Homo sapiens: one gene and its partners. The protein of the gene in region 3 interacts with the protein of the main gene of each other region in a pairwise test. Each region holds a gene or a part of one and is shown on either strand. Other genes may lie near its edges.

Region 1 (3,238 bases), on a different chromosome or scaffold from region 3:
GGGACCCTCCCTGGCCATCCTTCCCCCAGGACTGTCACATCACCCCATCTTATCTCCTTCCTGGCCACTCGCACCAGCAATTGAGCTCTGTGAGGGCTGGGATCCTACTTCTTGTTCACCCCGTGGCCCTAGCACCTAGCACAGTTCCTGAATGAGTGAGGAAATGGGAGTTAGCATCTATAAAGGGGTCCCCATGTGCTCAGCACAGGCCACCATTTAGGGAGCACTGACAACCATCATTCATGAGCAGGACAGGACATCATGGGACAGGGAAGAAGACATCTGCCAGCCCCCTTTCAGTCCCCAGCTCCCTGAAAGTGCCACCTGGGGTGATCTGTGATCTGCAGACACACTGAAACCTCAGAGAGCAAAGCCAGGTGGCAGGTGTGGCTCCTTGGTTGTCTTGGTTTGTGGAAGGAAGGTGGGGGGCACCAGGACCTATTCATAACAACTCATGCTTTTCTAGCATTTACGACATCCAAGGCATCGCTCCTTAGGGTGTTAACTGGCCTGAGCCTTAACCCCATGAGGTAGGTACTGTTGTCATTCCCATTCTACAGATGAGGAAACTGAGGCCCAAAGGATAAGAAACGTGTCCAGATTCCCACTGAAGCACGTAGAGTCCAGGACCTGCTCCCAGAATCATCCAGAATCCTCCAGGGAGGCTCTCGTGAAGCCAGGTTAGTTGATGCTGCTGGGAAACGAACCCATTAAATTGATGCCCATTCAACTCTCACCCCTGGGGTTGCCCTTAGGGAACAGAGTCACCGTTTAAAGAGAGACAGAAGGTCTGTTGCTTTTTTTTTTTTTTTTTCCTGAGGCCGAGTTTCACTCTTGTCACCCAGGCTGGAGTGCAGTGGCGCGATCTCGGCTCACTGCAAACCTCCACCTCACGGGTTCAAGTGATTCTCCTGCCTTAACCTCCCAAGTGGCTGGAATTATAGGCACTCACCACCACGCCCTGCTAATTTTTGTATTTTTTTAGTAAAGACAGGGTTTCACCATGTTGGCCAGGCTGGTCTTGAACTCCTCACCTCAAGTGATCCACCCACCTCACCCTCCCAAAGTGCTGGGATCACAGGCGTGAGCCACTGCGCCCAGTCTTGCATTTTTATCTATTCCATGCTGTTTGAATTTTTTTTTTTTTTTTTTGAGATGGCGTCTTGCTCTGTCACCCAGGCTGGAGTACAGTAGCACGATCTCAGCTCACTGCAACCTCTGCTGCCCGGGTTCAAGTGATTCTCCTGCCTCAGCTTCCCGAGTAGCTGGGATTACAGGTGCATGCCACCATGCCCGGCTAATTTTTGTATTTTTAATAGACAGGGGGTTTCAGCATCTTGGCCAGGCTGGTCTTGAACCCCTGACCTCGTGATCCACGATCCACCTGTCTCAGCCTCCCAAAGTGCTGGGATTCAGGCGTGAGCCACTGCGCCCAGCCTGATGTCTGAATTTTTAAAGAATATTTTCCTTAGGTCAGGCACGGCAGCTCACACCTGTAATCCCAGCACTTTGGAAGGCTGAGGCAGGTGGATCACTTGAGGCCAGGAGTTCAAGATCACCCTGGTCAACATAGCAAAACCCTGTCTCTCCTAAAAATACAAAAAAATTTTACCTGGGTGTGGTGGCTCATGCCTGTAATCCCAGCTACTCGGGACGCTGAGGCACGAGAATTGCTTGAACCTGGGAGGCAGAGGTTGCAGTGAGCAGAGATCGTGCCACTGCACTCCAGTCTGGGTGACACAGCAAGACTTAAAAAAAAAAAAAAAAAAAAGACGCCTGGGTTCTGGTCTGGCCTCCTCCACCTTCAGCAAGCCGCACTACCTCCCTCAGCCTCAGTCTCCCCATCTTCAAAATGGGTCTAGTAATCCCTAGTCAACAGGGCAGTTATGAGCTAAGTCAAGGGCTTGGATAAGTGATCCAAGCAAGGTGGTAACAATATGTTTGCAAAGTCCAGGGCCTGGAGCCAAGCCCAGGATTCCCACCACAGCATGATGCAGCCTCCCTCTGATATCTCTGACCCATGGGCCAAAGTCACCCTCTGTTGGATTTGTCTGGCCTATACAGTGCTTTTAGAGATATGTTTTGAAGGCCAGGCACGGTGGCTCATGCCTGTAATCCTAGCACTTTGGGAAGCTGAGATGGGAGAATTGCTTAAGACCAGGAGTTCAAGACCAGCCTGTCAACATGGTGAAACCCCATCTCTACTAGAAACACAAAAATTAGCCAGGCGTGGTGGCAAGCACCTGTAATCCCAGCTACTCGGGAGGCTGAGGCAGGAGAAACGCTTGACCTGGGAGGCAGAGGTTGCAGTGAGCCAAGATCGTGCCACTGCACTCCAGCCTGGGCGACAGAATGAGAGTCCATCTCAAAAAAGAAAAAAAAAAAAAAAAAAGAAATATAGTCTGAATCTGTGGCTAAAATTTTAAAATGAGACATCTTGCCTGAAAACTCCTGAATTATGGCTTCTGTTGAAAAGATCAGCACATCTGGCCACCCAGGCCTATCTTCCTATAAGGCAGGAGTGGGCACAGGTAAGAAAAGGTTACCCTGAATTTATGATTCCTGCCAGGCCCCAGGAGGCAAGAGATCGCAAACTTAGCACTGGCTCTCGCAAAATTCCTCCCAGGAGTTTGTACAGGTCCCAGCAAAACACCATGGAATAAAAATCATTAACAGCGAACATTTAAAAGTAAAAGTATCAGAGATGGGACTAAACACTTCAGTCATTGAACATTGATTGACACAGCACTTCCTACCTCATCCCAGATACTGTGCTTTATTAATACCAACCTCTCATTTGAACCCTATGACATAGGAACTGATTATCTCCATTTTACAGATGAGGAAACTGAGGCACAGGGTAGTTATGTGATTTGCCCAGAATCCCATAGCTGCTACATGGTAGAGGCAGGGTCCAAATCCTTACACTCTGATTCTAGAGTCTTTATGTGTTTTGACACCAGGCAGTGCTGCAAAGTCTCAGTAAATTCTCACAATGACCTGATCACAACTTTACAAATGTGGAAACCGAGGTACAGAGAGGTCAAGTCACATGCACGGGATCATGCTAATAGAAACTAGCAGATTTGGAGCCGGGCGCGGTGGCTCATGCCTGTAATCCCAGCACTTTGGGAGGCTGAGGAGAGTGGATCACCTGAGGTCAGGAATTCGAGACCAGCCTGGCCAATATGTTGAAACCCTGTCTCTACTAAAAATACAAAAAATAACCTGGCTTGGT
Region 2 (3,500 bases), about 56 Mb from region 3:
TATTTGCAAAAAGGGTCTTTGCAAATGTAGTCAAGTCAGGGTGTTTTCATGCTGGGGTGTTTTCAGATGGGGCGCCCATCTGAGGACTGATGTCCTCAGAAAAAGAGAAGGCGCGGGCACAGAGGGAAGAGGCAGCGTGAACATGGCGGCAGAGGGTGGAGAGGCAAGTAAAGGAACCATGAGGGCTTCCGTAGTCCCCAGAAGCTGGGAGAGGCAAGGCAGGTCCTCCCCTAGAACCCTTGAAGGGAACACAGCCCGGCTAACACCTGGATGTTGCACTTCCGACCTTCAGAACTGTGAGACCCCCATCTCTGTTACTTTAAGTCTGTGGGATCGAGTTGCGGCAGCCCCAGGAAACGGACACACTCCGCCTACAGGCTGCTGTGCTTGGGGCTGTGGATGGGAGCGGGGAGCGCACTGGGAGGGAGTAAGCAGGGGTGGGGCAGGGCCTCAGGGCGCCTCCTTTTTTCCAGGGCCACTGGCCGGTCCCATGCACCAGTCAGCATCCACTGGCTCTGCACCACCATGGCAGGCTGAGCCCCACAGGAGGCAGCAGCCACCCCTCTGAGGCCTAATGTCCCTGACTCAGTGGGCCTTTGCCACCTTAGGCCTGGGACCCGGCAAGCAGGTGACAGTCAGAAACCTATGTGGGCTGGAAGTTTAACTTGTCCAAGCAAAGGGAACACCAGTGATGCATGGTGACCCCTGAGGCACAGTAAACTTGTTCTGCATTCCAAATAAAACCTAACAAACCCTACACTTGTCTTGGAGAGCCATGCTTTTGGAAAAAGCAATTACACCATCTGCTTTATTATATGACTTTCTGACCCGGGACGAGTGTGACAGGGGATCATCATGTAAAAAGGAAAGAGCATTTCAGAAGCTTGGCGCAGATGCCCATTACTGTGGAGGAGGCCCGTGTCTTGGGCTGCCCAGGGGCCTGCATTCAGGTAGTGGAACCTCTAGGCTGCACTCCAGACAGCCAGATAATCCTGTACCTGATGTCCACCCCATCCTCGATATCTTATTCCACAGGGTCTTTTTCAAGAAGACTCACCCTCTTATTTTCTGATCAGCTGAATTACTCTGTGGGTTGGAAATGCTGAGACCAGAACCACTGATAGGCTCTGAAGCCCCGGCTTGGTCTGATGGAGCCCCTGGTTGTGGGACAAACAGTGGAGCAAGTCCATGGGCCGTGACAGAGGCTGAACCAGGCTGGCACAACCAGACCTTCTATGGCCAGGATCGCTGGGCAGAAAGCACATGCCACCAGCATGGTGTTTGAGGGTAAAGAGACAAGCATTTCAATGTCGAGTAAAAAAAAAAGTTAGCCAAGTTCTGTTTTGTCCTCATTAATTCATCTTCTTTTTTTTTTTTTTGAAATGGTTCCTTGCTCTGTCACCCAGGATGAAGTGCAGTGGCGAAATCTCAGCTCACTGCAACCTCCATCTTCCAGGTTCAAGCGATTCTCATGCCTCAGCCTCCCGAGTAGGTGGGATTACAGGCATGCACCACCACACCCGGCTAATTTTTTGCGTTTTTAGTAGAGATGGGGTTTCACCATGTTGGCCAGGCTGCTCTCGAACTCCTGACCTCAGGTGATCCACGAGTCTCGGCCTCCCAAAGTGCTGGGATTACAGGCATGAGCCACTGCACCCGTCCCTCATTAATTCATCTTAACCAGAAGAGAAATATTCAGTCTCACAAAAAAAGAAAAGAAAACCAGATGTTGTGTTTTTCTTTCATTAACTCTACAGCGACTTTATCCTTCTAGGTGATTCTATATGAACACACCAGATAAGATTAAAGCCCACCCCACCACATCAGGGGAACAGAAAAGTTTCCAGCAAGAAGGAAAGAAACCTGCTGCTCTTTGCTGAACAAATGTGCTGCAGCTGCTTCTCCCAAGTGCATGGTGTAGACAAATCGTAAGCAAGACAGAAGGGGCTGCCAGAGATGAATAAAATTTCGGTTACCTCTTCCATTCGGAAGGAACGGAAAATGTACACGTAGTCGCCCGGGCGTCCAACAAACCTGAAACGATGGGGGAGGTCGTTAGAGAAAAGATGAGCCCCTGGCTCAGCTCGGGGAGAGACCCCCAAGTGGGGACTGTGCAGCGTGTGAGTCCTGCAGGCTGAGCCTCGAGGGTATCTACAGGCGGCTCTCCCTGCCTGGTGCATCTGCTAAAAGATGACCACAGTGGTTTTCATTGGTCAAAGGTTGGATTCCCAAACCCAGAGAGGGGTCAGAAAAAGGAACTTCTTCAATGAGAGGCCACGAGACTGAGAGGCAGCGGGAAGGGGCCCAGGAGGGGATTAAGGCAAAGACCACCCGGCCTGAAGACTGCAAGCTGCTGCGCTAGCTGCCTGGGACTCAGGATGTGCCGCTGGCACGGTGGGGTCCATGGACAGCTGGCACAGAAGCACTCTGGGGACCTTGGGCAGCTGGGGCAGGTGGTGGCCAAAGGCCACCCTGGGTGGGGATAGACAACCTCTCGGCTTTCTAGGGGCTGGTGTGGGGCGTGTAGGCTTCCAAGAGCTTGCTCCATCCTGGATGCGCTCAGGGGGCACTGGACCCCTTGGCGGGGCCCTGGGACCCTGGGCCAGGAGGGCGGGCATGGCACTGGTGAATCACATGATGTGGAGGAGGCAGCCTTTTTGGGGGCTCTGAGATCAGACCAGCCAGTCCCTTGCAGGAGTGGTGGTGGGGGTGGGGGGCATCATTGTGGGTGGGCCGCAGGCCCCACCGCAGCCTGGGATGGCTCCAGAGGGCCCAGGCGTGGAAGGTTTCACTCCTCCAGGAGCTGTGAAGAGGGCTCAAGTGGCCAGCAGCCGCATTTCCACACCCTCCTCTCTCCTTGTCCCCACTTTGTGGACTCCTCCCTACGTGGACTCCTCCCTACCTGCCGTGGGAGCACCTGGAGCTGGCTTCTGGGGTTCTCTGCCTGGACTTCCTGCTGCTGGAGCTTCCCACTGCCTGGAGTCCCTGGGGTCCCCTCTGCCCAGGGTCCTCACTGCCTGGGGTCCCCACTGCCCGGGGTCCCCACTGTCCGGGGCCCTCACTCCCGGGTCCTCACTCCCCGGTCCTCACTGCCTGGGGTCCCCACTGCCCGGGGTCTGCACTGTCTGGGGTCCCCACTGCCCAAGGCCCTCACTCCCGGGTCCTCACTGCCCGAGGTCCTCTCTGCCCAGAGTCCTCACTGCCCGGGGCCCTCACTCCCGGGTCCTCACTGCCCGGGGCCCTCACTGCCGGGTCCTCACTCCCCGGTCCTCACTGCCTGGGGTCCCCACGGCCCAGGGTCCTCACTGCCCAGGGCCCTCACTCCCGGGTCCTCACTCCCCGGTCCTCACTGCCTGGGGTCCCCACTGCCTGGGTTCCCTGCCACCTGGACTCCCTGCTGCCCAGGGTCCCGCTGCTCTGGAGCCTCAGCAGGGCCCAGGCCTTCTCCCTGACCCTCTTTGGCTGCGGGTGCCACGGTGTCTGCCCTGCCCTGGGCTCCA
Region 3 (3,500 bases):
TTAGTTACTTTAAGATTCACAATGTTTTAGAGAAAATCAGAATAGAGACCCTGAGCTAAATCACTCCTAAAAAAATTATTTTGGGCCATTTATTATAGACTAAATGAGAGTGGAGTTAGCGAGATGCTTGTTGTACAAACTTGTCTTATTTTGGCTTGATTGTCCTCTCCATTCTATTTTCTATCAACTGACCCTTTAAAGATAAAAACTGATAAAATGCTTACTTGACCTTACATTTAAATGTATTTTAAACCTACTTGACAGATTTAATAGCATGAAAGACTTCAAGCATCTTCTCAACAATAAGCATTCTCAGGTTATCAAAGCGCTGAATGGCTTCACGAACAAACTCCAAGACATCAGCAGCTGCTGCTTCGTTGTTGTCACTGAGAAATTCCATTAACTAAAAGAAAAAAAAAAAAAAGAAAATGGAACTAACAATTTTCGAAAAGAAAATTATCTAGGACAAGAAATAAATTAAAAGAATGTAATTCTTTTTTTGTTTTCTAAGAGACAGGGTCTTGCTTTGCTGCCCAGGCTAGAGAATAGTGGCACAATCATAGCTCACTGCAGCCTTGAACTCTTGGGCTCAAGTGATCCTCTGGCAGCCTCAGCCTCCCCAGGAGCTAGGACTTCAGGCATGACACTATGCCTAGCTAATATTAATTTTTTTGTAGAGACAGGGTCTCCCTATATTGCCCTGGCTGGTCTTGAATCCCTGGCCTCAAGTAATCCTCTTGCCTAGCCCTCCCAAAGTGCTCGAATTACAGACATGAAGTGCCATGCCTGACCCTTGTAATTCTTAATAATTTTCAAATACACAACAAAATGTAAATTGAGAGACAAGTACTATTATGTAAACAAAGTCACAATGGCTTTTCCATTTTATGTGCAGCAAAATTTATTTTAAAATTCACTATAAAAGATAAGCTAGAGATCCAAAACTCCAAATAAATAAATGAATTCGATCCTCCTAAATTGTAACTAAAATCATTTTAGAGAGAACTCAAGAGCTCAAAGGCAAAAATCAAATTATAATAACATACCTCACTTATCTGACAGTGACAGCAAAATATTCTACATATGTGAATTTTTCCTATAACTGATTCCTTTAAGAGCTAAAGCTATTTAAAATAAATACCTATTTGCCTTACTGAATAATATATATACACAGCATAATTTTACTTTAGGTAACTGTATCATCAATTAAAATAATATGCAAAGCTTTTTTTTGGTCACTGTTTTTGTTTTTTTGATGAATATATAAGTGAAAGAAGTCAGTCCTCACCCTTCTGAGTTTAAAGGTAGAGGTAGATATAAAGATCACTTCTCACCATGAGATTTAATGGTTCTAGGCAGCTGAGATTTCTGGAGTTTGTCAAATAACTATATTTTTTAAAAAATTCTTTTAGATAATTTCAAAATTAAAGTCATCAGAATTACATACCACAGGAATAACATTTGCAGCCATATCTGGAAATCGGACAGAACAGGAATGCAATGTTCGCACTAGGAGTTGTCTGTATTTGTCAGTATCTTCATGCTCAGACACATTATTTGTTTTTATCACTTCCTTCTTCAGGACAATAACCAGCTTATAGAATGAAGTAAAAATAAGTGAGAGTTACATCATATTTGGGCCTGATAGCTACAAAGTGCTGTCAGAGTTTCCTTTTACCTCTTCAACATTTCTAGAAGAGACAAGATCCAGTGCTAACTGCAGAGTTTTCTTTCGTACTTCTAAGTCTGGTGTGCTCAATACTCTTAGGATATCCATAACCAGATCCTAAAAAAGAAGAAAAAATCAAGAATTAACACCAATCTTTCTGGTCACAGGAAAAAAATCTTCACTGCAGAATGGTGGGGTTTATCTATCATCACTTTAATTCTTTAATCAATAACAAAACCACTAGTGGTGGAAGAACTAGATAGTTTGGGTCTCCTGATACACTGCAATATGAAATAATAGCACATGACACATTCAAACTGATAATGTTTACTTTGACTCTGTCAAGCTAAAGCTAAAGCTCCAACTTACAGTTTATAGAAAGTAACAGAAGTCAAAGAACAAGCTAAACAACGTAAGAAAGTAGCCATACACATCCAGAAAGAGGGGCATTTTATAGTATTACTGGTCTGGTCTCTTCAACAAATCAGTGTCATAAAAAAAAGATACTGTCCAAAATTAAGAGACTGAAAGGGCATAACCACCAAATACGATACATGGTCACAAAATGGGCAAACTAAACAAAAAGGGCTTTTGGGATAACTGGGAAAATCTACATATAGACTTGGTATTAGATAACATTCATAAATTATTAACAATTTCGTTAAATGTGATATTATTTGACTCCATAGGAAAATGTAACATTTAAAAGATGCACACTTAAAAACAATTCGAAACTGATAAAAAAGTTCTAAGAGTGAACTCCTGTATATCCTTCACCTACATTCACCAGTTAATATCTTCCCACATTTGCTCTTTTCTTTTTTTTGAGATGGAGTCTTGCTCTGTCACCCAGGCTGGAGTGCAGTGGCAAGATCTTGGCTCACTGCAACCTCTGCCTCCTGGGTTCAAGCAATTCTCCTGTCTCAGCCTCCTGAGTAGCTGGGACTACAGTTGCACACCACCATGTCCAGCTAATTTTTGTATTTTAATGGAGACAGGGAGGGTTTCACCATATTTGTCAGGGTGGTCTCGAACTCCTGACCTCAGGTGATCCACCTGCCTCAGCCTCCCAAAGTGCTGCGATTTTAGGCATGAGCCACCACACCTGGCCCACATTTGCTCTTTACTGCTGATAATTTTAGTGTATCTCTCTCAAGGGTAAGGATAATTTCTTATATAACCACATTATAATTATCAGAGAATTTAACACTGATCAATACTATTAACTAATATACACACCATATTCATATTTCTCAATCTGTCCCAATAATGTCCTTCATAGAAATTTGTTGTTGCTGTTGTTCTGATCCAAGATCAGCACTGCATTTACCTGCCATGGGGTTTTATTTTTATAACCATTATTATTCTCATGGATTAAACAAATATGGTGATAATTTTCTAGAATCAGATCACCTTTTATTCTCAATTGGTATAATAATTTTCCACGAAATGTAAATTATATTCAAATTAAAATGAGTATGTCACTGTCGCTAAGAATAGTCAATACAGTACAAACCGAAAAGATAAAAAAATATAATACTGATTCACTTTAGAAAAACATTTTTTTTTTTTGAGACAGAGTCTCACTCTGTTGCCCAGGCTGGAGTGCAGTGGCACGATCTCAGCTCACTGCAACCTCTGCCTCCTGGGTTCAAGTGATTCTCCTGCCTCAGCCTCCCAAGTAGTTGGGATTACAGGCGCACTTCACCACACCCAGCTAATTTTTGTTATTTTTAGTATAGACAGGGTTTTACCATGTTGGCCAGGCTGGTCTCAAACTCCTGACCTCAGATGATGTGCCCGCCTCTGCCTCCCAAAGTGCTGGGATTAC
Region 4 (3,500 bases), on a different chromosome or scaffold from region 3:
GCCTATGCAATACTTGCTTTTTTCTTTATCTTCTGGTAGAATTTATTCTTTTTTGTACTGTTCATATTCATCCCAGGAAAATTTGGAGGAACAGCTGCTCTCCACTGGCCTGCTCCTGCAAGAATGCCCTGGAGCTTCTGAAGAAGGATCTATATTTACCTTATAGGGCCTTAAGTCCTGGGATGGAACTATATACTTTGGGAACCAACTTTCTTCACAAGAAGAACTGGGCATGTTGCAAGCTTCCTCATTTCTCTTGCTCTCTGGCTTTTTGTCCAAGCTCAGAAACATAACCTCAGACTGGCTGCATTCAAAAGGAGTTTTCTGAGTCATTCTGTCTATCCTCAGGCCTTCATCAGAAGGTAGTAAATTGTTATTCTGGCTTTCATCATCTTCCACTGGAATACTTGGTACATTCTCCAGGAATAGAGGAGAAGGACACCTGAAGGACTTTAGTGATGTGGGAGGATCTTCAGCAAAATACAAGCTGGCTTGAGTACTTTCAAGAGTATTTAAAACCTAATAACAAAGAAGCAAACAGACATTAAATTAAGTTTGAATAATCTTTCCTTTTACCTTTTATCACTCTACCTATAAAGAATATTCTTTCATTTTCATGAAATTAGTTCAGCTATAGAATTTTGAATTAGAAGGGATCTTAAAGATTAGCTAACGCCCTTTATTTTGAGGAGTAAATTAAGTGACTTAAAACCAGGTATAAAAGAAACTACACTAAAGTAAATACCAAGAGACCTGACTTAAGCCTCAGATTTGCCACCAACTAGCTTTGTGAACTTGGGCAAGTCTCTACATTTTTTACTTCAACCATAATATGTGGAAGATTGGAAGGGAATAAGGAAATGGTGGGCCCAACCTGTAATTCTTAAATGCCAGTTTTTTGTTGTTGTTCTTGTTTTGTTTGTTTGTTTGTTTTGTTTTTTTTTGAGATGGAGTCTCACTCTGTTGCCCAGGCTGTGGCGCAGTGGGATAATCTCGGCTAACTGCAACCTACGCCTCCCAGGTTCAGGCAATCCTCCTGCCTTAGCCTCCCAAGTAGCTGGTATTACAGGCACGTGCCACCATGCCCAGCTAATTTTTGTATTTTTAGTAGAGATGGGGTTTCGCCATGTTGGCCAGGCTGGTTTCAAACTCCTGACCTCAGCTGATCCACCCACCTCAGACTCTCAAAGTGCTGGGATTACAGTCGTGAGCCAGGGCCCCTGACTAAATGCCAGAAGTTTTAGGGAGCTCTTTTAAAGTGCATATCCCTTGGTCCCAACATAGAGATTGTCATTCAAAACATAAGGTGTTGAAGGTCCAGGAATCTGTATGTTAGAAGCTTCGGATGATTTGGATGTACAGCTAGATGTGAGAACCCTTGATGTAATTAATACACCATACAACATACCTTCATATACACACACACACGTAATTAAAAAAATACATATAGAGAGCTTTACAGTTTACAAAGTGCTTTCACATATATTATCTCATTTAACCTGTACAAACAACATTAATCATTCTCATTTTATAGATGATAAAGCCTGAGGCTCAGAAAAGGGAAGCAGTATCATTAGTCAGTAAGGTACAGACCTGCTGTTTGACACCGGATCTCCGGGCTTCCAATTCTCTGTCCCTGCACGATATATGTCATAGCTCCTTCCTGAGCCCTTGGCTCCACACAACTCTCACGGGTGGTGTCAGGCCTGGAATACAGCTCTCCTGCCTCGAAGGCCAGTGCTGTTTATATTCTGATTATGTCAACTCCTTGTTTAAAACCCTTGCATGGCTCTATGATAGACTCAGGATAAAATCCAAACTCCTAGAATGGAATTCATGTCCCTCTGTCATGGAAGCTTCTATTATTTTAACCACTCCAGGCTTTCCCTCACTGCTCCCCCTCCATGATGCTGAATTATCTGTGGTCTTAGCACCATGGGCTCCATCACCTTGGAGCCTTTGCAGGTATTCATTCTCTCTGCTTGGGATGTCTTTCCATCCTTACTGCTGCCTAAATCCAACCTGTTTTTCAGATCTTAGCTAAACCGTCATATCTATCAAAAAGCTTCCTTAACTTCCATGGGCTGGTGTGTATTCTGAATTCATGCTCCACGGCAACCTGGCCTTCTGTCTATCATCATGTTTCTCTTGCTGGACCAACATTCTATGTTTACTGATCTGACTCCTCTTAACAGTGAGCTTGAGGGTAGTCATTGCATCTTGATCACTGATATATTCCCAGCACCCAATACAAAGTCTGGCACACACAGAGTAGGCATTATTTGTTTATTTGTGCAAATAAACAAATAAATGAATGGGTGATTAAGTCTATGGATAGATTAATAAATTTAAAAAAATGGATAAGGAAAATATATGCTGCATTTATAATGAGCCAGATCTCTTAATGAAGACTGAACACTTTGGGAGGCCAAGGCGGGTGGATCACTTGAGGTCAGGAGTTCGAGACCAGCCTGGCCAACATGTGAAACCCCGCCTCTATTAAAAATACAAAAATTAGCCAGGCGTGGTGGCTCGTGCCTAATAATCCCAGCTACTTGGGAGGCTGAGGCAGTAGAATCACTTGAACTGGGGAGGTGGAGGTTGCAGTGGGCCGTGCCACTGCACTCCAGCCTGGGCAGCAGAGTGAGACTCTGTCTCCAAAAAAAAAAAAAAAAAAAAAAAAAGATTGAATAAAATATTCCCTGCAAACTGCTCATTTATGTCTTTACATTAAATTTTTTGTGGAGTCTTGGTTCCACCTAGAAATGACCTCTAACAGAGTACCAAATGATGTGGCTTTTTGACCTGGAAACACTATTATGTTGGAATTCTCTGTTGGAGGCTGGATTTGTCTCATTAACAAATAATTCACTTAGATACACAATTTATCTAGTTTAGATTTTCCATGGTTCTGTGGGCTCAGTTTTGAATAAAACCATGTATATACTCACTTCATCCATTGATGGTCTTAACTTTGCCCGCGTTGCAGCACACCGGCCTGCCAAACAGAAGAGCTTGGCAGAGAAATTCCGAGGGCAGGGAGGCACTTTCTTATCTAGAAATGAGAGACATGAATCCAGGCCTCTCTTCTCCATCAATTCTCTAAGGAGATCCCGCTTGGAAGAGAGGGAGACAATTTTATCACAGAGAACTTGATCAAAAAATGACCAAGAGATAGGTGCCAGGATGAAAACAATTCTTACCAGCTGGATATGTTTTGGATCATCTAACACTACTCTACATCCTGTTAGAACTTCCATTATTACCTACAAGGAATATATAGAAAGTCAGCTATATATCTTAAAAATATACACACAATTTGTTGCAACTATTAACCATGACTATGAATATAGTTCATTCTGATTAATGATTTTATATTTTATTAATTGCTTGATTACACAAAATTAATATATAAGATGAGCTAACAGGAAATCAATGAGTCAAAAGTTAAAACTCTTTAAAAAATTCTTAGAATCTAGAACATTCTTGGCAATAAACTC
Region 5 (3,500 bases), on a different chromosome or scaffold from region 3:
TTTCGGCCAGGCGCGGTGGCTCACACCTGTAATCCCAGGACTTTGGGAAACTGAGGTGGGCGCATCACTTGAGGTCAGGAGTTTGAGAACAGCCTGGCCAACATGGTGAAACCCCATCTTTACTAAAAATACAAAAATTAGCCAGGTGTGGTGGCACACACCTGTAATCCCAGCTACTCAGGAGGCTGAGGCACGAGAATTGCTTGAACCCGGGAGGCGGAGCTTGCAGTGAGCCAAGATCGTGCCACTGCACTCCAGCCTGGATGACAAAGTGAGACTCTGTCTCAAGAAAAAAAAAAGGACAAGTTTCTCCTTCCTTCCCAATCTGGAGTAATAAAGAGTTCCTGGTTATTAACACTCCTGTGGGATTATCTTTTTTTGTTCTTTCATACCCAAGAGAGCTAGGGCATGTGAAAGTGGGTACCTCTCTGCGGTTGGTAATATGAGTGGCCGCATGATCCACGTTCCCATCACACGCCCTCAGGCCAAGCCGGGCTTCCTGGGCAGTAAACCCCAACTGCAACAAATTGTCCACTTTTGATGGATCAATATATAGCTCTTTAAAGAGCTGACGTGCCTAGAGACAGGGAAATGTAAGAATCATGTAACCACGGCAATACTTAAAGCTTAATACAAAGTGAAAGCCTAAAAGAAATTAGATTGTATCCAATGTGAATTAAAAGGCATCAGATTTTGGATAAAATCTCTAAACTAGGCCTGTTATTAACAAGTACAAATGGAAACAGACCAACACTACCTCTACTCACATAACTTAGCCACAGCACAACACGAGGTAAGAGGCTGGGTGTTGCAGAAGTGACTGGTAACCACTTTGTTTTTGCAACAAAAGCCCCCGAATTTCAGCTGTGCACGTGGCATTTCTCACCCTCCCTTGCAGCTGGGTGTAGCCAGGTAGTGAAGTCGAAGTCAATGGCATGCAGCCACAGCGCTGGGTGCAGCTGCGGGGTCATCTCTCCAGTGGCCTGCTCTGGACTCTCTCTTGCCCCCTCTGCTGGCTGGAAGAGGCACTGACAGGAGCAACCTAGGACGCCTCGCTGAGGCTGGCGGGCTGCTCACTGCTCCGGCCTGGCTCACCTCTAGACGGCAAGATGAGTGAGCCATAAACTTCTATCCAATTAAAGTCACTGTCTTTTTGAAGTCTCATTACAGCATCTGGCTGTACTCTAACATATACAAATATGTTTCTGGTTCAACATCTCCTGTGCACGGAGAAAGCACAGGCATGTTTCTCACAAGTCACAAACTACTAAGTTAAAATCCTTAACTTCTGGGAATGTTTTTTAAAAGGAGGTGAAAATTGGTTACAACTTTACTTTTCTTACCTTGTTAAGATACTCATAAGCCTCTACATCATTTCCACTGTGATAGTTTCGGATCCCTTGAAGTAAGTAGAGTCTTAGAAACAGTACCTTCTCTTTCCCACAATTTCCCTAAAATTATTGAAGAAAAAAAGGATAAAATTGCCTTATTTCTAATTACAGGTCTATAATACTCATCTCTGTCATTCCCTTGGTCTCCAGAGGGGCAACATGATAGGTATTAAAATGTCCATGGCTTCACTATGACTGACGGCAAAAGTGAAGCCCCCTCTTCCCCATCCCCTGTGGTATGATAACATTCCTCATGCCACACAGGAGAGTCAGTGTCAGGGCACCAGCCTCCAGACATGCAGCACAGTGGCCCTTCTGGTCAGCAGAGAAGTATGCAGAAATCCAAACCAGGTATCAGAGAGTCTGCATCAGCAGGATTTTGATGACTTGGGGAAATCAGAAAAATCCTTACTCGAGCCACAGCTCTTGAGCTGTGACTCATTCACGTAAACCATTACTGCTGAAATGTCTATTTTCTGCATTTACATCTTGCAAATTAGACTCTACCGATATAAAGAAGTCAGCAGCTCTCTCCTGGTCAGGGTGATCACTGATGGGGTTCTATGACTAGCAAACCATGTTCCTTTGGGCTAAATGCTCACACGCTAAGTAAGAGAGACAGCCAGATTTGTAAAACATTGAACACTTTATAAATATATAGTTTAAAAAGACTATACTGCATACTACTATCAAAATGAAATTACCTTCTGGCAGTAGTTCAAATACTTTAACAGGAATAAACACAAATGCTAGAAATGGACTCAACGAGACATAAGATGAATTCCAGGAACATACTTTTATGTGGACCAGTCTCTGATGATTTTCTCCGTAACAATTTTTAAAGCATTTCTGGGCCAAGTTTAATTTTTTTTCTGCATCATCAAGGCATTCCAGCTGTTCCAGGCGGAAGTAACACCACACTATATCCAGCTGGAGGACGGCGTAGTTATCCACTGTGTCCAGCAGCTCTCTGCAACACTCACTGGAAAGAGAAGGACAGTGACATCACTGCCAAGCAGCATTTGAAACATTTTTAGCATTTGAAACCTTTTTGTGAATGACTGGAATTCTTTCCCCGTTCTTGGTATATATTCAAAGGCTGACTGCTCTAAAAGAGAGATCCTAATGTTTAGGAAGGGAGCTGTGTTTATAATCTCATCCTTCTAATGGGGGAAAGAAAGAGAAATCAGAAATCAGGGCTTAGGAATCAAAGCTTACCACCACTTGCCCCAGGACACACATGCAGCCCCTTGATAGGAAGCAGAACCCAGGGCCACTGTTTCAGAGGCCCTCAGCAAATACGGGGAAGACCATGCTTTAAAGCTGTGACTTCCAATCCTGACTGCAAATCAGCATCACCTGGGCCAGAGCAACGTTCTTTCTTTCTTTCTTTCTTTCTTTAAGAATCATTGATCCCACCCAGACCAAACATAACAGAAATTTCTGGGGGTTGGGCCTGGTGGTTATACTGCCAGAGTCTCCCCAGCTGATTCTAGTGTACAGCCAGGGCTGAACACCACTTCTTTAAAGACACCAAAAAAATCCCTACGTACTATGAATGCCTCAGCTGATGACGGCTCTGACAAGGCATTCATGTTCAATCATATTCAAGCTGGGGGAAAAACAATCCAGAAAGCACCAGGCTCTAACGGCCCAGCTGATTTCTGAGGGCCTGTGTGCAGGCAAAATTTGACTCCGTATTCGTGGCAGCAGGCTGAACCCAGGCGCAGCAAAGGGAAGAAAGACAGCAACAGAAGTCAGTGTGCTCCAGGAGGAGCACTGACAAAGACAGCCATCAAGGTGACTAATTTTAAGTTATGATTACATTAAAAATTCCTAATGCCAATCTAGGTCTCAAGTCTTCAATAAGAACATTTGGAACCACACATTGTATATGAACAAGGTTTTCTCTCTTTATGTTCATTGGTGTTCTACTAAAAATAAGAATGCTCTTGTATAAAACTACAAAATCCACATGGCCTCAAGCTTCCTGTCCTGCCTATCAAAATATGCATGGAATAAAAAAAAAAGGACTTTAATTTTGTCATTTACTCTTTAAAACAGTAGTCTCCTAAAGAGGGCCCATGTACACAGTCCAGTTGTGGGTGC
Region 6 (3,500 bases), on a different chromosome or scaffold from region 3:
ATTTTGCTTCATTACAACTCCATTTTTAAAGAAATTGGAAGAATTAGAAAAAGAAGAAGAGCTGAGAACAGCTGCTGGAGAGTATGACAGTGTATCTGAGAGTGAAGACGAAGAGATGCTGGAAATCCGACAGCTGGCAAAGCAAATTCGAGAGAAAAAGAAGTTGAAAATTCTGGAGTCCAAAGAAAAGAATACACAGGGACCCAGGATGCCGCGAACTGCTAAGAAGGCAAGTTTGTGTCTTTCCAAAGCAGTGTGATCTAGTTTTTGAAAATTGGATTCCTGTGTGATCATTGCTAAATAACAACTTTTCAACCCATTTATGGCCATAAGATTGCACATTCTTGTTTTATTGGTGTATGGATTTGCAAGATCGCTCACGTATTGATCTTTTATATTCTTTACTGCGTCCTTTCTTGGTGACTTTCAGCTTCGAGTTTGGCACTACTCTAGATCCAGTCATTTTGCAGTTGTACAGATTAAAACTGTAACTTATGGTTCACAGACGTTCAAGGCTATCAGTGAACATTTTCCTCTTCTTTTTTCTCTCTCTCTTTTTTTTAGGGGGGAGATGGAGTCTTGCTGTGTCTCCCAGGCTGGAGTGCAATGGCGCCATCTTGGCTCACTGCAGCCTCCACCTCGCGGGTTCAAGCAATTCTCCTGCCTCAGCCTCCCGAGTAGCTGGGATTACAGGCACCTGCCACTACGCCTGGCTAACTTTTGTATTTTTAGTGGAGATGGGGTTTCACCATGTTGGCCAGGCTGGTCTCAAACTCCTTACCTCAAGTGATCTGCCTGCCTTGGCCTCCCAAAGTGCTGAGATTACAGGCGTGAGCCACCACGCCCGGCTGGTTTTCTTGTTCTTTAATTTCTGCATTAAATCTGGACTCTTTAGGCCGGGCGCAGTGGCTCACGCCTGTAATCTCAGCACTTTGGGAGGCTGAGGTGGGTGGATCACGAGGTCAGGAGATTGAGACCATCCTGGCTAAAACAGTGAAACCCCGTCTCTACTAAAAATGCAGAAAAATTAGCTGGGCGTGGTGGCGGGCGCCTGTAGTCCCAGCTACTCGGGAGGCTGGGGCAGGAAAATGGTGTGAACCCGGGAGGCAGAGCTTGCAGTGAGCCGAGATTGTGCCAGTGCACTCCAGCCTGGGCAACAGAGCAAGACTCCATCTCAAAAAATAAAAAATTTAAAAAAAAATCTGGACTCTTTAGCAATTTACAGAAACCTGACGCAGTCTACAAAAGGCAATTTATTGGCTCTGTGGCAGGGTGGGACTGGGGGAAGAAAGCCCACATGCAGGGCAGTTAACATGTAACCAGAGAAGTCACTTGACATTCAGGATGCCTCTCAGTGGGTCTTCCTGTTTGAATACACTGTTTTCACATGGTGGCAAGTGACTGGTTATGGCGGACTTGGACATTTTTGTACTTCTCCAGGTGGGGCTCAGCCATCTCTGGGAGGAGAGAGGTTGGCGCACTGCCTTTGTCTGAGGCCACCTCACTAACCTCAGCTTTAGTGTCTCACCTCTGATGGAGACGGTCACTCTCTCCCCCGTGTTGCGGTGAAGAATGGACAGACGTGGAGGATACGCTGATTCTTCCCACAGCAACTGCTCTGTTAATGTTAGTTTTCGTGGGATTTAATTGAGCTATCCAAAAACATGAAAGCGGGGCCCAATAAAAATTACAACTTCTAAAATAAGTATATTATAATTGTTGCAAAATATGTATACATATATATTGCCTTGAAGTTTTTTTCAACATTTCATCAAACTAATTTAAAGCTAATATTTCTTTTTATCCTTCTCAGGTTCAGAGGACAGTTTTGGAGAAGGAGATGCGTAGTCTTGGTGTTGACATGGACGATAAAGACGATGTGAGTGTGGGGGCGGTTCATGTGTTTATGTGGCTGGATACACCTTTTTAATAAAGAAAACTGGCCGGGCGTGGTGGCTCATGCCTGTAATCCCAGCACTTTGGGAGGCCAAGGCGGGCAGATCATGATGTCAGGGGTTCGAGACCAGCCTGGCCAACATGGTGAAACCCAGTCTGTACTAAAAAAAATACAAAAAATTAGCCGGGCGTGGTGGCGTGTGCCTGTAATCCCAGTTACTCAGGATGCTGAGGCAGGAGAATTGCTTGAACTTGGGAGGCAGAGATTGCAGTGAGCTGAGATCGTGCCCCTGTACTCCAGCCTGGGCGACAGAGTGAGACTCCATCTCAAAAAAAAGAAAGAAAGAAACCAGGGTTTTGGAAAGCCGTGGGAACGTGGGAAATTACAGCAAAAAGAAATGAGAGCTTCCAGTTTTTCTCTTTTGAGATTCGCTGGCCCTGGGACTGACTTGAAGTGATGGGTTGAGGATTCCCTGACCCTGGGTCTGGGTTGAAGTGGTGGATTGAGGCTGCACTCCAGCCTGGGCAACAGAGCAAGACTGTGTCTCAAAAAAAAAAAAGCTCCACAGCCAGCACGAGACAGCACCATGACGTGCCCAGGGTGTGGCTGCAGACCCTGTCCTCTAGATGTGCAGTCTGCAGTTTCCGTCTGATGGTTTCTGTCTGATGGTTGTCCCTTTGTGTTCATATCAGTAACCCCCAAAATGGGGCAGTGAGGGAGAGAGCATTGTTTATATCTGAAATATAAATTGTGATGCTATACTATAATAATCACTTTTAAATGAGAGTTCTAAGTTTCTTTAAGTGGAGTTAAAATCAGCTTTCTTACGTAAAGCAGCTTCCGTTAAGTGAATAAGAATATTTGACCAACAACTAATGTGAAATTGTTACTAATGTGAACTTGAAATGGTGTCACTAATATGAAAATACTGCGTGTATTTTCAAGACCTTTAGCCCATGTGTTAATGGTTCAGACGCTCCTCTCCTCCCCTCTTGCTGGAGTGACCTCATGCCTGTCGCTGAGCCTGGGTGCGGGGCTGGGGTCCTGAGCTCTGAGCCTGGGAGTGGACCTGGGGTCCTGAGCGCTGAGCCTGGGAGTGGACCTGGGGTCCTGAGCGCTGAGCCTGGGAGTGGGGCTGGGGTCCTGAGCGCTGAGCCTGGGAGTGGGGCTGGGGTCCTGAGCTCTGAGCCTGGGAGCGGGGCTGGGGTCCTGAGCGCTGAGCCTGGGAGCGGGGCTGGGGTCCTGAGCGCTGAGCCTGGGAGCGGGGCTGGGGTCCTGAGCGCTGAGCCTGGGAGTGGACCTGGGGTCCTGAGCGCTGAGCACTGAGCCTGGGAGTGGACCTGGGGTCCTGAGCGCTGAGCACTGAGCCTGGGAGTGGACCTGGGGTCCTGAGCGCTGAGCATTGCTTCCCCTGCTTTGCAGGCCCATTACGCAGTCCAGGCAAGAAGATCCCGGAGCATCACTAGGAAAAGAAAGCGGGAAGACTCTGCTCCCCCGTCCTCTGTGGCCCGGAGTGGGAGTTGCTCTCGAACTCCACGTGACGTTTCTGGTCTTAGGGATGTCAAGGTCAGTCTCTGTGTTGTGTAATGTAATAAAATGACAG
Region 7 (3,500 bases), on a different chromosome or scaffold from region 3:
GGCAGGAGAATGGCTTGAACCTGGGAGGCAGAGGTTGCGCCATTGCACTCCAGCCTGGGCAACAAGAGCAAAACTCTGTCTCAAAAAAAAAAAAAGAAAGCCCTTTCCAGTGCTCCTTGTTGCTTCTTATCACAGTCCACACATTTTTTTTTTTTTTTTTTTTTTGAGATGGAGTCTCGCTCTGTCACCCAGGCTGGAGTGCAGTGGCGCCATCTTGGCTCACTGCAAGCTCCACCTCCCGAGTTCACCCCATTCTCCTGCGTCAGCCTCCTGAGTAGCTGGGACTGCAGGCACCTGCCACCACGCCTGGCTAATTTTTTTTTTTTGTATTTTTTAGTAGAGATGGGGTTTCACCGTGTTAGCCAGGATGGTCTCGATCTTCTGACCTCGTGATCCGCCCGCCTCAGCCTCCCAAAGTGCTGGGATTACAGGCGTGAGCCACCGCGCCCAGCCAGTCCACAGAATTTAACTTGGGTTGCACCTGGACTGGACACCACCTAGTTTAGCTCTCTCGTGCCTTGCACAAAGCTGGGTAAACATACATTTTGGTTGAATGGCTTTTCCAGATGAGTCACAGAGGTCAGAGAAAGGTTAAGAGGCTCACTCGAGGTAGGTCATCCCTGCCCCTCCTGCCAGCCCCTGGCCTTGACTTTCCCAGGGCTTTGGTTACCTCGCAGAATCCCCCTCCCCAGAGTCTCAGAGATGGGGGCTGCTTTAATTATCAAAAGGATCCTTTGATATAAGCAGAAATGGTATAGTGTAAATTCTGGAGGTGGAATGCCTGGGTTTGAGTCTTGGCTTCATTATCTACTAGCTATGTAAGTGAGTAAGCCACTTAACCTTTCCGGGCCTCAGTTTTCCCCATCTTTAACACAGAAATAATAATAATAGCTTTCTCATGAGGCTATTGTGAGGAATGTGGTAAATGAGTCGTAAATGAGCTCCAAAATCTAAAGCATTTAGAACAGTATGTAGTGCACGGGTAAGTACCATTACTCTTCTCATCTCTATTTCACATCTGCACAAACTGAACTCAGGGAGCATCAGTAACCTGCCCAAGGCTAGCAAGTGGCAGAACAGGACCTGACTCCCAAGCTTGCCCTACTGCCTCTATTCTATTGCTTCCCTTGAAACCTCCCAGGATCAAAGTGGTGCTCCCAGCACCTGCCCCCACTGCCTCATGTACCTGTGAGTTTCCACTTCCAGCCAAAAGCTGGATCATCTGCTGCATGAGTTGCTGCTGGGCGCTGGAAGCCCCTGTTGGAGAAGATGTGGCTGGCGTGGCTGGTGAGGAAGTGGGGGCCTCGGGCGTAGACCCTGCGTTGCTGCCTGCTGAGGGTGCTGGGGTCCGGGATATCCCAAAGGAGCCAAGGCTGTAGGCAAGAGAGACCAAGAGGTAGGAGATGGCATCCAAGAAAGGGATGAGAATGTGAGATCCAGAAGGAAAAGCAGTTGGAAGAAACAGGAAAACAGACCCTCAGAGACACAAAGGATGCTGAGAGAGTGGCAGAGAGAAGAGTTGAAGGGGAGAAGTTGCTAGAACCTTGCTGCCCTCCTGCCCCCCTACCCTCACCTGGGTACCAGCCCAGGGGCCTCGGTCTGCAAGGTCTGTAGTCCCTGCTGGATCTGCAGCAATGCCTGCATGGCTCGGGGATTGGTAAGGATGGAGAGTGACTCTGGGTTCTGCATCTGGTGGGAAATAAGCAGAGAAAGGCATCAAGAGGTGGCAGGAAAGAGGAGACAACCTCAACTAGGAGTCCAGAGTCAAGCTCTGCCCCAACTTCATTTCCACCCATTGGGCTTCAGGGACTACCCCTTGCCCTCAACCTCCACCCATCTAGGCTCCTCACTCACCTGCTGCAGGAAGACTGGGAGCTGCAGGCGGAGCTGCTCCTGCAGTTGGGGGTTCCCCGCGAAGAGCGGCACATTCACCATCATCTGCCAGGGTGAAGGTAGCAGGGGGAGACCTGGGCCTTTTCACCCTAAGAATTCCCCCACAGCCTCAGACTCCCTGGGCACCCCCTACCACTGCAGGAAATCTGGCCAGCTTCTCCGGGGATCTCAAAGTATCCTGAAGGCCTAAGTGGGACAGTGAGAGGAAATGGAACTATGCTCTGGGTAATGAAGAGTATGAGGAGTCAGCCTGCTCAGCCCTGGGTCTGATGATGATGAGGACAGCTAACATTTCCAGGTATACAGAACTTACTCTGTCACACGCCATGTTCTAAGCACTTAACGTGTATTAACTCATTTAATCCTCACAACTATAGGAGGTAGGAACTATTGTTATTATCATCTTACAGATAAAGAAACTGGGAGGCTAAATAACTTGCTTAACTCACACAGCTGGGAAGCAGCAGAGCTTGGGATGCAAACCCAGGCAGTCTGGCTCCACAGTGTTTTGACCACAAGAAACTGCCCCCAACCAAGAGGAACTCTCTCCCCAACAATACTCTCCTCATGCTGGTTTCATACCTGAGCAGCAAAGTCGGGGTTCTGGGCAAGCGTCTGCATCATGCTGCGCATGTAGGGTGCTGAGATCACATTCTGCATCAGCTGGGGGTTCTCAGAGATCTGCTGGAGGAGGGCTTGCATTTCTGGGCTATTGAACATCCCTAGGACAAGGCGGAAAAAAAGAAAACAGGAGAGAAAGGGTCCAGATGGAAACCGAAGGCCTCACTTCAATCTACCTTACTTCAGACACCGAATGACTACAAAACTCAGAAAAGCAATGGTCCAGTGGGCACCCTAGGATTGTGGCATGAGTCCAAGTCTCTCCCAAGTCCAAGGTCATCTTGCCCTGCTTTGGCCTGGCCCCTTTTCCATTTACTTGATAAGGACAAGCCAGCTAGGAACTGGGTCTGATTTATGCCTCTCTGGACTGTTCCTGCCATAAGCTCAAATTATGTCCAATTTGGAAAGAAATGATTAAATATCATCTAGATCAAACTTGTCTTAGCAGCAGAGACCCTTTCCTCATGCTAAATCTCACTCAGAAACCAAGTGTGTTAATGGTCTGGCTGGAGCTGGGGCAGGAGGGCTGCAGCCTCTCCCATTGGGTCCTTCCTCATCCTGGAGATGAAGACCTTTCCAGGATGCAGGAGCACAATTTTAAAATCATGGATCAAGTTCCAGTCCTTACTTTACAAATAAGGAAACTAAAACACACAGAGGGAAGGAACTTTCCCAATCAAGATATCCCCCAGAGTGCAGAGAAATTAGAGCATCTGCTGAAGACATCCCCCAGGCCATGTGTACAGTCATAGTCCAGATAAATGGAGCATCCTCTAGGGTTGTGCAGTGCATAACCTGTTCTTCTGTACATGGCAAGCCCTGCACATCCCTTTCCCCCAGCCTCACATCTGCCTCTCCCCAGGTCTGCCTTGATTCCTCTCCAGCCCCCTCTCCCCACAGCAGTCTGAACCTTTTACACTGGATAATACCAGAGGTGCTCATGGAGCTTAGGAAGTGGGGCCTGGTTTACTCATGAGCTATTACTT

Evidence for each region.
Region 1: the proteins of COPB1 (region 3) and KDELR1 come close enough for resonance energy transfer, tested with the Homo sapiens proteins (one study listed by BioGRID).
Region 2: the proteins of COPB1 (region 3) and ANO1 interact in a two-hybrid assay, tested with the Homo sapiens proteins (one study listed by BioGRID).
Region 4: the proteins of COPB1 (region 3) and IRAK3 interact in a two-hybrid assay, tested with the Homo sapiens proteins (one large-scale study listed by BioGRID and IntAct).
Region 5: the proteins of COPB1 (region 3) and NUB1 interact in a two-hybrid assay, tested with the Homo sapiens proteins (one large-scale study listed by BioGRID and IntAct).
Region 6: the proteins of COPB1 (region 3) and GTPBP4 interact in binary tests that used the Homo sapiens proteins (3 or more experiments, as listed by UniProt).
Region 7: the proteins of COPB1 (region 3) and UBQLN4 interact in a two-hybrid assay, tested with the Homo sapiens proteins (one large-scale study listed by BioGRID and IntAct).

Annotation. Positions count from the first base shown.
Region 1 is NC_000019.10:48,385,314-48,388,551, forward strand, and holds part of KDELR1 (ER lumen protein-retaining receptor 1), read right to left. Parts: intron 1-3,238. UniProt on the Homo sapiens protein: Receptor for the C-terminal sequence motif K-D-E-L that is present on endoplasmic reticulum resident proteins and that mediates their recycling from the Golgi back to the endoplasmic reticulum.
Region 2 is NC_000011.10:70,161,817-70,165,316, reverse strand, and holds part of ANO1 (anoctamin-1), read right to left. Parts: intron 2,035-3,500; coding exon 1,977-2,034; coding exon of another isoform or gene 1,824-1,976; exon of another isoform or gene 1,612-1,823; intron 1-1,611. UniProt on the Homo sapiens protein: Calcium-activated chloride channel (CaCC). Plays a role in transepithelial anion transport and smooth muscle contraction.
Region 3 is NC_000011.10:14,479,312-14,482,811, forward strand, and holds part of COPB1 (coatomer subunit beta), read right to left. Parts: intron 1,787-3,500; coding exon 1,679-1,786; intron 1,595-1,678; coding exon 1,448-1,594; intron 404-1,447; coding exon 258-403; intron 1-257. UniProt on the Homo sapiens protein: The coatomer is a cytosolic protein complex that binds to dilysine motifs and reversibly associates with Golgi non-clathrin-coated vesicles, which further mediate biosynthetic protein transport from the ER, via the Golgi up to the trans Golgi network.
Region 4 is NC_000012.12:66,244,714-66,248,213, reverse strand, and holds part of IRAK3 (interleukin-1 receptor-associated kinase 3), read right to left. Parts: intron 3,267-3,500; coding exon 3,204-3,266; intron 3,117-3,203; coding exon 2,952-3,116; intron 520-2,951; coding exon 43-519; 3' UTR 1-42. UniProt on the Homo sapiens protein: Putative inactive protein kinase which regulates signaling downstream of immune receptors including IL1R and Toll-like receptors.
Region 5 is NC_000007.14:151,365,812-151,369,311, reverse strand, and holds part of NUB1 (NEDD8 ultimate buster 1), read right to left. Parts: intron 2,374-3,500; coding exon 2,187-2,373; intron 1,452-2,186; coding exon 1,344-1,451; intron 578-1,343; coding exon 425-577; intron 358-424; exon of another isoform or gene 1-357. UniProt on the Homo sapiens protein: Specific down-regulator of the NEDD8 conjugation system. Recruits NEDD8, UBD, and their conjugates to the proteasome for degradation. Isoform 1 promotes the degradation of NEDD8 more efficiently than isoform 2.
Region 6 is NC_000010.11:1,012,434-1,015,933, forward strand, and holds part of GTPBP4 (GTP-binding protein 4), read left to right. Parts: intron 1-31; coding exon 32-229; intron 230-1,813; coding exon 1,814-1,879; intron 1,880-3,319; coding exon 3,320-3,463; intron 3,464-3,500. UniProt on the Homo sapiens protein: Involved in the biogenesis of the 60S ribosomal subunit. Acts as a TP53 repressor, preventing TP53 stabilization and cell cycle arrest.
Region 7 is NC_000001.11:156,040,299-156,043,798, forward strand, and holds part of UBQLN4 (ubiquilin-4), read right to left. Parts: intron 2,616-3,500; coding exon 2,476-2,615; intron 2,080-2,475; coding exon of another isoform or gene 2,062-2,079; exon of another isoform or gene 1,955-2,061; intron 1,939-1,954; coding exon 1,855-1,938; intron 1,690-1,854; coding exon 1,574-1,689; intron 1,374-1,573; coding exon 1,187-1,373; intron 1-1,186. UniProt on the Homo sapiens protein: Regulator of protein degradation that mediates the proteasomal targeting of misfolded, mislocalized or accumulated proteins.